2 linked regions of the Homo sapiens genome follow. The protein of the gene in region 2 purifies or fractionates together with the protein of the main gene of each other region. This does not show direct contact. Each region holds a gene or a part of one and is shown on either strand. Other genes may lie near its edges.

Evidence for each region. The genes of interacting proteins can lie anywhere in the genome.
Region 1: the proteins of TMEM243 (region 2) and CD47 purify together in Homo sapiens (affinity purification with mass spectrometry; one large-scale study listed by BioGRID and IntAct). This does not show direct contact.

What each region holds. Positions count from the first base shown.
Region 1 is NC_000003.12:108,077,530-108,082,037, reverse strand, and holds part of CD47 (leukocyte surface antigen CD47 isoform 1 precursor), read left to right. Parts: intron 1-1,693; coding exon 1,694-2,047; intron 2,048-4,508. UniProt on the Homo sapiens protein: Adhesive protein that mediates cell-to-cell interactions. Acts as a receptor for thrombospondin THBS1 and as modulator of integrin signaling through the activation of heterotrimeric G proteins.
Region 2 is NC_000007.14:87,195,733-87,201,196, reverse strand, and holds the end of TMEM243 (transmembrane protein 243), read left to right. Parts: exon of another isoform or gene 1-2,139; coding exon 2,140-2,190; exon of another isoform or gene 2,191-3,151; coding exon 3,152-3,256; coding exon of another isoform or gene 3,257-3,382; exon of another isoform or gene 3,383-3,515; intron 3,516-4,438; coding exon 4,439-4,561; 3' UTR 4,562-5,037; downstream 5,038-5,464.

The sequences.
Region 1 (4,508 bases), on a different chromosome or scaffold from region 2:
TCTCTCAGGGGAAATAATTCACAATTCCAAAGTTTTAAAGAATGCAACGGAAGTCCAGGTTTTGCCTTGGGCTTCCTAGTATTTGGGTGGCTAGAAATGTAGAAAACTGGGAAGAGGTGAGCTGTGGATGCCCACAATATAGGTTCAGACTGCAATTTCCCAGAAATATAACAATTTGGACTAGTCAAAGAGGGCCCATATCATTACATTAAAATGCCAGATTATCTAGTTTTTATAGTATCACCCTACATTTTTACAGCATAGTATTGTTTAGAGAGCACTTGCCGCTATGTTTTCCATGTTAATGCTCAACACAGTTCTGTGAAGTAGCCCGGTGTTTGTTTTTGATCCTCCTACTTAAGAGATCCTCCTATTTTAGAGAGTAAACCAAGGCATAGAAAAGTGAGTTGCTTAAGGCAGCATATTAAAAAGGGGCAGAAATAGTATTTTTACTCAGGTGTTTTGAACATTGTCCAGTACCTATATTCCAGTATGCATCCTTGCATTCAATTCATGGGGTATTTATTGAGTAAACATAGTGTTCTTACAATAGAAACATTCTATGCCTCTGATTTTTATTCCAGTTTATGTAGAAGTAAATCTTAAGTGTGAACTATTAACAAAGTTGATATTTTATTTATATTTGTTAGTAATTTGTGTTTTGTTTTTGTTTATGTTTTGAGGGGAAGGCCAAGTAGCTACTTAGGTAAAAGAGTTGCTGAGTGGCTGAAGAATATGGAAGACAACTACAATTCCTACACATTCTTGTACATTTTAGTTGAACAATGAGTGATTACATTTATTTACCCAGTGCCTCTTCTATAAGGCAACAACTGGTAGTTTATCCTATTGAGAAGCGTAGATAGGATGCTTATTAGCAGTAACTGCTCTTGGTTTCAACTTGCATCTTACTTAGCTTTTTCACCGTTTTGTGGTTTCTTGGAGGAAGAATACCCATAATATACATTTGGAGACTGTTGTTCTGTAGTGTCAATGAAATGTGGGGGTGGGAAAATGTCATTCAAGACTCCCATACAAAATGTCTATTGCTGCCTATATTTTGCTATGGGAAAGTAGCCACAGATAATGTTTTTTTTTTCCTCATTAGTATTTTAAGATTTTCCATCCTAGTGGAAAGATATGATTTGATTCATCCTATTTACTTTGTATATTAAAGTACAGTAGAACCTGCCACTTTTTTTGGAAATGCAGCATAAGGATAAAGATAAATTTCATATCAGTTCAGCAAGTTCTATTTAGCAGTGTGTTGAAGTTGAGACTGAATAAAATATTTGGTTTGGTTTTCTGTTCAAAATTTTACCTTGATAAGGACAATATTTTTCTACATATATCAGTAGGCAGTAATGATTACTTCAAAGCTTCCAAAGCCAGATACTACACCTGCATGTTCCAACATAGTTGCTGAATTTATTCCCAAGATGCATGTAATGTATACTTTGTATTATTGAGAATGAATAAAGAAAAGTCATAATGATGCCTTCCAGCTGTGCAAGTTAATATTAAAATATAATTTGTTTGCATATTTCACCTAATAGGTCTTCTTCATTGCTATACTGTTTACTTAAGTGAACAATGGAAATGTTGCTGTTTATCTTAAGGATTTGTAACATGCCTAAGATCTTACAGTACAGACTTCTATAATTAATGAAACATTTTTCTTTTTCCTTTCCAGGATCAGCTCAGCTACTATTTAATAAAACAAAATCTGTAGAATTCACGTTTTGTAATGACACTGTCGTCATTCCATGCTTTGTTACTAATATGGAGGCACAAAACACTACTGAAGTATACGTAAAGTGGAAATTTAAAGGAAGAGATATTTACACCTTTGATGGAGCTCTAAACAAGTCCACTGTCCCCACTGACTTTAGTAGTGCAAAAATTGAAGTCTCACAATTACTAAAAGGAGATGCCTCTTTGAAGATGGATAAGAGTGATGCTGTCTCACACACAGGAAACTACACTTGTGAAGTAACAGAATTAACCAGAGAAGGTGAAACGATCATCGAGCTAAAATATCGTGTTGGTAAGACTTCTATGAAAGCTTCTTTTTTTATTTGTCCTGGTGCAACCTGATCCTCTTTCGAGAGGAGGCCAAATGGGGATAGGTACTCCTTTGAATCAAAAAGCAGGCTGTTATTAATAAATGTTGATGTAATGTTTAGCAAGTTTAAGATTGTGATTTCTATCCTATTTGTTAATCTACTCTTCATGGTAAAACACATTTACTATTTAATTTGTATTACTTGTTAATTTGTATATTGTGTGGTTCTCAAACTTTTGGTCTAAGGACCATTTTATTTGGCTGATTGGTCCTGGGGTAATGTACTCTTCATTTCTGTTTGCTGCCATCCAAGTGCTTTCTTTCCTGTGACTAATTTTCAAGTCTCTTTCCAATTATTCAGCCTTCTGTTTTTTGTGTTTTTTTTTTTTTTTTTTTTTTTTTTTTAACCTTACACTTTGACCAAGGGATGACAAGTCCCAGCCATGCTCCCTCTGGAGAGAATAGAGGAGAGTCAGGAGATTAAATCACGTTATCATGGATGATTTCTTCAGATTTTCTGTGCTTAGCCTTACTTTGGTCTTCTTTTTGTTGGCCAAAATATGAGAGAACTAGAGATTCAAATTCATTTATTCAAATTCAGACTTGATGATAGCACCATGATTCTGCCCTTTTTATCACAAACTTGGGTTGCTGAGGTGTAGAAGGTAGTAAAATTAGCTGAAGTAAATAGTCTCCTCTCCTTGCTGTTTCCTGCTGTGCTAGCTGAGTTCTTCAACCCCATATGAGTATGTTCTTTCTGTTTTGAAATCTCTATTTAGAATTACCTGTCATATTACCGATCATGGCTTAACCACATTTTGAGAACCTTAACTCTAGATAGGTTCAGTTCTGTTCAGTTGGATCAACTATTTGCCTAGCTTTTATAAAATAATCTACTACCAGATTAGGAATGGGGTGTTTGGTTTGATGAAATGTTTGCACATTACTTAGGATTGAGAATCAGGAGGTCTGAGTTACAGCCCCTGTTCAGCAACTTACTATTCACCTGTGTGATCTTGAGAAGGTGCTTAACCGAGTCCAAGTTACCTCATGTCCGAAATGGAGATGACAATAGATACTTGCTTTTATGTATTCTACAGTCTAATGAGCATAAACCAAAGTGTGTTGTAAATGTTAGTTGTTTTCCTGGGATGTTTATTTTATGAAGTAAGGTATCAAGTTGTTGAAGTTAGCCTAGAGCATTGTGAGAGGGATTTGTGTGCAGTGAGGAATGGGCAAGGGATGGCTCCGAGTAGGCAAGGAGAATTTGAAAGGTCTTTCTGCTCAGAAATCTCTCTTACATTGTAGCTTTTACTATTGATATTAATTTGGGCAAAGGAGCTTTTTTTGTTGTTGTTAAGTATACCTTTAATGAAGGGTGTAATCAGTCAGTCATATCCACTGCAACTAACTGGTATTAGATCATCTAATACCTAGTTGAAATTTTTCTGAGGTAATGTACAATTTTGTGGAAATGAAAGAATAAGATATGGGGGAACAGTAACTTTTGGGGGGTAATGCAGGTCACTGAGAGGTAAACTGGAAAACTCAAAATATGAGATTTGAAAGGCCAGAAGATGAAATGAAGATGGAAGAGAAAGGAATGCCAGGATCTGAGATAAAAACAGTTTATTATTTTGCGTGTGATTGAAAGACTGTTTTATCTTTGTTTGCAAAATACCCTATAAAAATAAAAACTAGACTTATTTTGGGAGCCATTAAAAGGAGAAAGTATTGTTTTATTATAGAGAATGTAGAAAATTCTACCAGAGGTTTGAGACATTTGGCTTTGCATCCATTTTAATTTTTTGAAATAATTATTGATTTACAGGACGATTCAAAGATAGAGAGCTTCCATGTGCCCTTCACCCAGTCCCCCCAATGGTTTCCTCTTATGTGACACAATATGAAAATCAGGAAGTTCACAATGGTGCAGTGTGTGTTAATGGTTCGCTCTCATTTTATCACGTGTTTATTTGCGTAACTACCTACACAATCAGGACATAGACCTATCCATCATAACAAACATCTCCCTCATGCTTATTCTTACTAGTCATACCGCCACCTCCCACTGTCCCTAACCTGGCAAGCACCAATTTGTCCTCCATATCTATAATTTTGTCATTTCAACAATGCTATATAAATGGAATGATACAAGATGTGACCTTTTGAGAAGGGCTTTTTCACTAAGCACAATGCCCTTGAGATCTATCCAAGTTTTTGCATCTATCAATAGTTCTTTTTTCCTTACTTTTTTTTTTGCTGAGTAGTAGTCCATAGTATGAATATATCACAGTTTGTTTAACCACTTACCTATAGTAGGACATTTTGGTTGTTTCCAAGTTTGGGCTGTTACAAATGAAACTGCTCTGAACAATTGTGTACAGGTTCTTGTGTAGACACAGTTTTCATTTCTCTGGGATAAATGCTCAGAAGTATGGTT
Region 2 (5,464 bases):
TTGGAGAAAGAAAATATTCTGAGAAACACTTCTGCCATGTCCGAAATAGTTCATCCCATCTTGGGAATCCCAGAGGGGACCACTACATTATAACAATAACTGATATTCATGAAAATCTGTTGGAATTCTGTTCAGTGACTATCTAAAAGGTAGGCAGGAAAGTATTCATTAAAGTTTAGATATATTTTCATCAGGATGATTAAAATCAGTTATATGGAGAAATCCAAAAATGTGGAACAAAGTCACCCATGAGGAAATCATTCTTGAAAGGTAAGCACAGTGTAGTACTTTGCTAATAGGCTTTTTGAGGTGTCATCTGCCACTTGACATCTTTGTCTAGACCAGCACTAGCACTCTAGGTTGTTCTTTGGGTGAGAAGCATAAATAGGGAAAGGAGGCCTGGCACTGAATCTTGTCTTTATCACTTAATGGTATTGAGATCTTGGGAAAGTTCTCAGTTTCCCTGAGCCTGTTTTGCTACCTGTGAAACAGTCATATTACCATTTCATCCTAGAATTTTTAAAGAGAGGATTGGTGAATGTGCTTGGCATAGTTAATATCCTTTTACCATTATTTTTCTCCTACTTTGATCCTGGTAGGCAACTTGCTGTGTGTCATTTGGCAATTAGTGATATATTGGCTTGACTTCTATTGGTGGGAGCTGTTATGAGGTATGCAGTGCTTCATTTTGGAAATCCCTGGCGCTCAGAGAGCAGCAGATATTCTTGCTTCTCAAAAATAGTGGGGCTCCCATGGATTTTGTCTCTCTACACATTTTATGTTGTCCCATGTGGGAAGAAGTTAAAGTGAGTGGTGACTTGTCCCTGGGTCCCTTTCCTAACAAAGTGGTCCTAAGTTCAGGCTCCTGTGTGCTGTGTAGGCTTCTCTAGCTGAGGTCGTGGTAAGATCTCTTCTGAGTCCTCTGGAGTTAGGGTGTGGCTGGAGTCCAGTATCTTTTGTTCTGTAACCTTTCAGTTGCAGTGGCCTTGGTCTGGAGAGTTGTGATTTGTCCTTGGTTAGATCACACACATCCAATACTTGGCTTTCTTACTCTTTCCCTCCCAATTTTGCCTGACTCTTAACTTCTGTGGGTTCTTATCCTTAAAAGGCGACTACTTGGAAATGAGAATTCGGTTGCTGCTCTGTGATTGTTCCTGTGTCCTTCCCATCTCTGAGGTTTTGTTTATTGGCGGCATGTTCCATATCCTGCCATTCTCTGCTCAGACCATTATCAAAACAACATTTAAGACGACTGATTCGTTAAAGACTCAGCTTTGACTTCTCAGAAATAAGACTGCATGTCACTATCATACTTTACCTTTTTAGTAGTACCTGAAACTACTTCTAACCAGTGACCTGGATTTAGGAATCTCTGGTTTCAAAATTGCTTCTAACTTGTTATGACTCTTAGAAAATAATTTAACCACACTGGGCCTAAATTTAGTTTAACCTGTAAAATTAGGATTGGATCAGTTTTTCAAACATTCTTTGTTGGTTGGGGTGGGATGGGAATGACAAGAAAGCTCAGTAGGTAGGTTCTTCATTCAACCAATATTTTGTTTATATACTAAAGCCCTTCACTATTAAATAACTTGGAAAAACTACTGGACTGGATGGTCTCTTAAGATTGCAAGTGCCAAGCCTTGGCACTCTAGGACCCATCCCTTTTAACAGTAGCATCTATTTTTAGACTAGACAAGGATACCTAAGCTGTATTACAAATATAGTTCCAGACACATCATGGTACTCTACATCTAGTCCGGTTCCTGATACCTTTAACCAATGCTCTGGCCTGGCCATTCCTGCAGTGCCTGTCCTTCTCCTTTGGCTTATGCTATCCTCAGCAGCACATGCATTATTTGTAAGCCTCCCTTACCCATTTGATACTACCCAATCAAGACTCTAGTATAAATGTTCTGTCCCTTCAAGAAACCTTCCCCAGTTGGCCATTTTCCCAAAGTACATTTTCCACTCTTATGGTTCAGTACACTTTGCTTTGTCTGGTAGTTTTATGTGTAAAGCTCAGAGGACTGGATCTTGGGTTTCTTTATAGTAAACCATCCAAATGCCTTGCATTGTACTATACTGAAGGTAACATGGATCCAAGTCATATGGCTTAAAAATTCTTTTCTCTTTCAGGATCGAATCATCAATTTAGTTGTTGGCAGCTTAACATCCTTATTGATTCTAGTAAGTATCCTCATTTTGTGCCTCACCCAGGCTCTTAGCCAGTTTTGAAAACTTTATCAATTATGGTTAACTTTCCAAAAAAAGCTAAATAAGTGCTTTTAATTTTATTACCACAAAATTGCAGTTGCTAATTGGAGTAGCTAATTTAATTCTGCCCCACCCCCAGGTTGAATATGTGAAATGGTACAAGTCAGACAACTTCGTTTTAAGATAATTGAGTTTACCATGTTTTGCCTAGTAAATTTGTAAAAATGTCAGTGGCTAGTAGCCACTTCCTTCTGTCATCTACCATAATTCCCCATTTCTATTTTGTTCCTGAAGAACATATCCATTACCCTTTGGTCAAGTTTTAAAAGATTTGGTCACAGTGTATAGTAGTTGTACTGTATACATCCTGTATACAGTATACATCTGGGAGCTATTACAATAAAATTTTTAAAAGCTGTATTTTCCATAGTTTGACATTTTTCTGGCACATTAAATTTAAGAGAATTTTTTTCCATGGCTTCTTAATGAAAAGATTGCATATAATGCTGCATCTGTTAGAAACAGAACTATACAACATTAGAAGTCTTTCAGTGTGTTTCATAATGTTATAGCAAAACCAGCTTTGATTATATTCATTTTGCTAGAAATATTTAAAATAACAAAATGGCTAGAACTTTTACCAGCAGAATCATTAATCCTGGGAGTGAGGTTTAGTTAATGAAGTTATTTTGGCATCAGCTAGTATTACTGATGTTTTCTCTCCTTTCATAAGTAAGGGAAAGTTTAGAAAAGAAGTACTAAAATAACTCGAACATATTTATAATTACTGTATTAACATTCTAGAAAGCAAACTTGGTGGCAGATGTAATTTTATAACATGAAGCATTTTGTAGTACTGTTGCCTAGACTCCAGTTGGTAATTACCAAGTCTTGGAATTACTGTTAAGGCCTTACATAATTTCTCTTCATACAGGTAACGCTGATAAGTGCTTTTGTTTTCCCTCAACTACCTCCAAAACCGTTGAATATATTCTTTGCTGTCTGCATCTCTTTGAGTAGTATTACTGCCTGCATACTTGTAAGTACTGTTGAGAATTTAAACAGTGTTCTTGAGGGTTTAAGTTGCAATGCACAGGACAAAAATTTTCAGCCTTGGGTCTATACAAAAGGGTATCTCTTAATTATATCCTCATCCTCCCCCTAAAAGTATGTTAGAATTCTCAATAAAATCTGAGTCTTCTCCTTTTCTCCTAAATCCCAAAGTTGTAACCCCAAAGAGAAATTCCACTCCCTTGATAGCTTAAAAAAAAAAAAAAAAAAAAAAAAAAAATTAGTGGAAAGACGTAGGTGGCCAAAGATTTTAATTTACTTAATTCATCTTCACTCAAGGACTACGTAAGGGCCAACAGTCTTTGGGAAATGCCAGTTACTGCTAAGGGAAGAGATAGAGCACTCTGGATTTAATTCTAATTATTACAAAATTAGTTTAATCTACATGTTTGTTTCCCAAAATGGAGGTATTAACACCAAAACCTCCTGGGAAATCTAAAGCTGCAGTTGTTGTAAAAATGTTTGATTTACTGCAAATGTTTCTTTTATGGTGAAGAAACAAAGATGGTGGTGGCTCCTCAGTGTTCATTCATTAGTTGGCTACATTGTTTCATGTTCCTTTAGAGGCAGAATCAAAAGAAAAAACAATAGTAATTTGCTTATCTGAGTTAAAATTAATTAAACCAGGAGACACCTCCAAGTGTTCTCATTCACTGATCCTGCTATATACTCCCATGACCCGAAGAAGAACTAGCCCATCCCACTTTGGGAGCTTTCCTGTTCCCCTAGCTTGAAGCCTAAAGTGACTAACAGACAATGAACTAGTTTAATCCAAATATATTATGGAAGCCCTATTTTACGGTCTGAACCAACTGTATGAATCATGAGTCTAAATGTTGTCTTCCTTTCCTGTTAAGTAGTATGCCCAGGTATATGTTCTTGGATAGCTTGCCAGATGACTGGTGGAGTATACAGGTGTGAATATAGAGGAAAGTAAACTGAGAAAGTAGGAATAAGTATGATCTTGGATGTGGAAACTCAGAGTAAGAATTAAATTCTGGCTGTACTGATCTCAGGAATGTAGAGACCTCAGAATATGGAGAATGTCTGTCTCATTTAGGGGAATAAACAAATACTAATGAAATTTGAAATTGGTAGAGAAAATGTTATATTTCAAATTTTAATTTATAAACTTTAATTCTTCTTTTAGATCTACTGGTATCGACAAGGAGACTTAGAACCGAAATTTAGAAAGCTAATTTACTATATCATATTTTCTATCATCATGTTGTGTATATGTGCAAACCTGTACTTCCATGATGTGGGAAGGTGAGGCTGCCAAGGAGAAGTACTTACCAGGACTCTTCAAAATGATACATTAGGACAGTGAGTAATTTTTGGATAAGGTATGCTGAAGAATCTCCTGCAGAAGTCTGATACATGATTTTCATGTTAATTGTAAATGTTAATTCCCTCTTGCAAGGGAGACATATCCTAGATCACTTTGCTTTTTCTTTAAGGAGCTGATGTTGCACCTAAACATTCCAACCCTTAAAGCTAAAACAGCACAAAAAAATTTCACTTTTGAAATGAAATTTTTATAATTGTATGGCAAAAGGCTATGTAAAAACAAATCTTGCATCTTAAGACAAATATTCTTTTATTTCTGTTAAACTGAATATACAATTGTTCCCTAGGCAACCAACTTTTGCTTATAACTACAATTTAATTTCACGTTGACAAAACACAGTGAAAAGACAACTTTGTGAAGATCTAATTACAATAATAAATAAAATAATTTATACAAGGGTTTTTTTTTCTTGACTTTTCTATAGGGGTCATATTCATTAAAAAGCCCAAAAGGCTACCTTTGCCTTAACCCTTCTGTAGTACAGGAATGATTCTTAGATTTGTTTCCTTTTGTTATAGAAGCAAATATTGTTTTTTTAAAATAGCCTGAGATGAGAGGTTATATTGTACCCCACCAGCTAACACACTAAGTGGATGACAAACTATTCTCTCGGTAATTTATATAGCAAAACATCTAATAAATGGTCATGGTATCAAGGATAGGTAACATTACTTCCTTCCTCATTTAGTTTTACTTCAAAGTGCTAACTTTGTAAACTAATGACAGTGGTTTCTGAGGGGGTGAAAACTGCTTAGATTCTGGTGGGTTTTGTTACTATGCTTATCCATATTCCCTTTAAAAGTAACAAAAAACCTGTAGTGAATT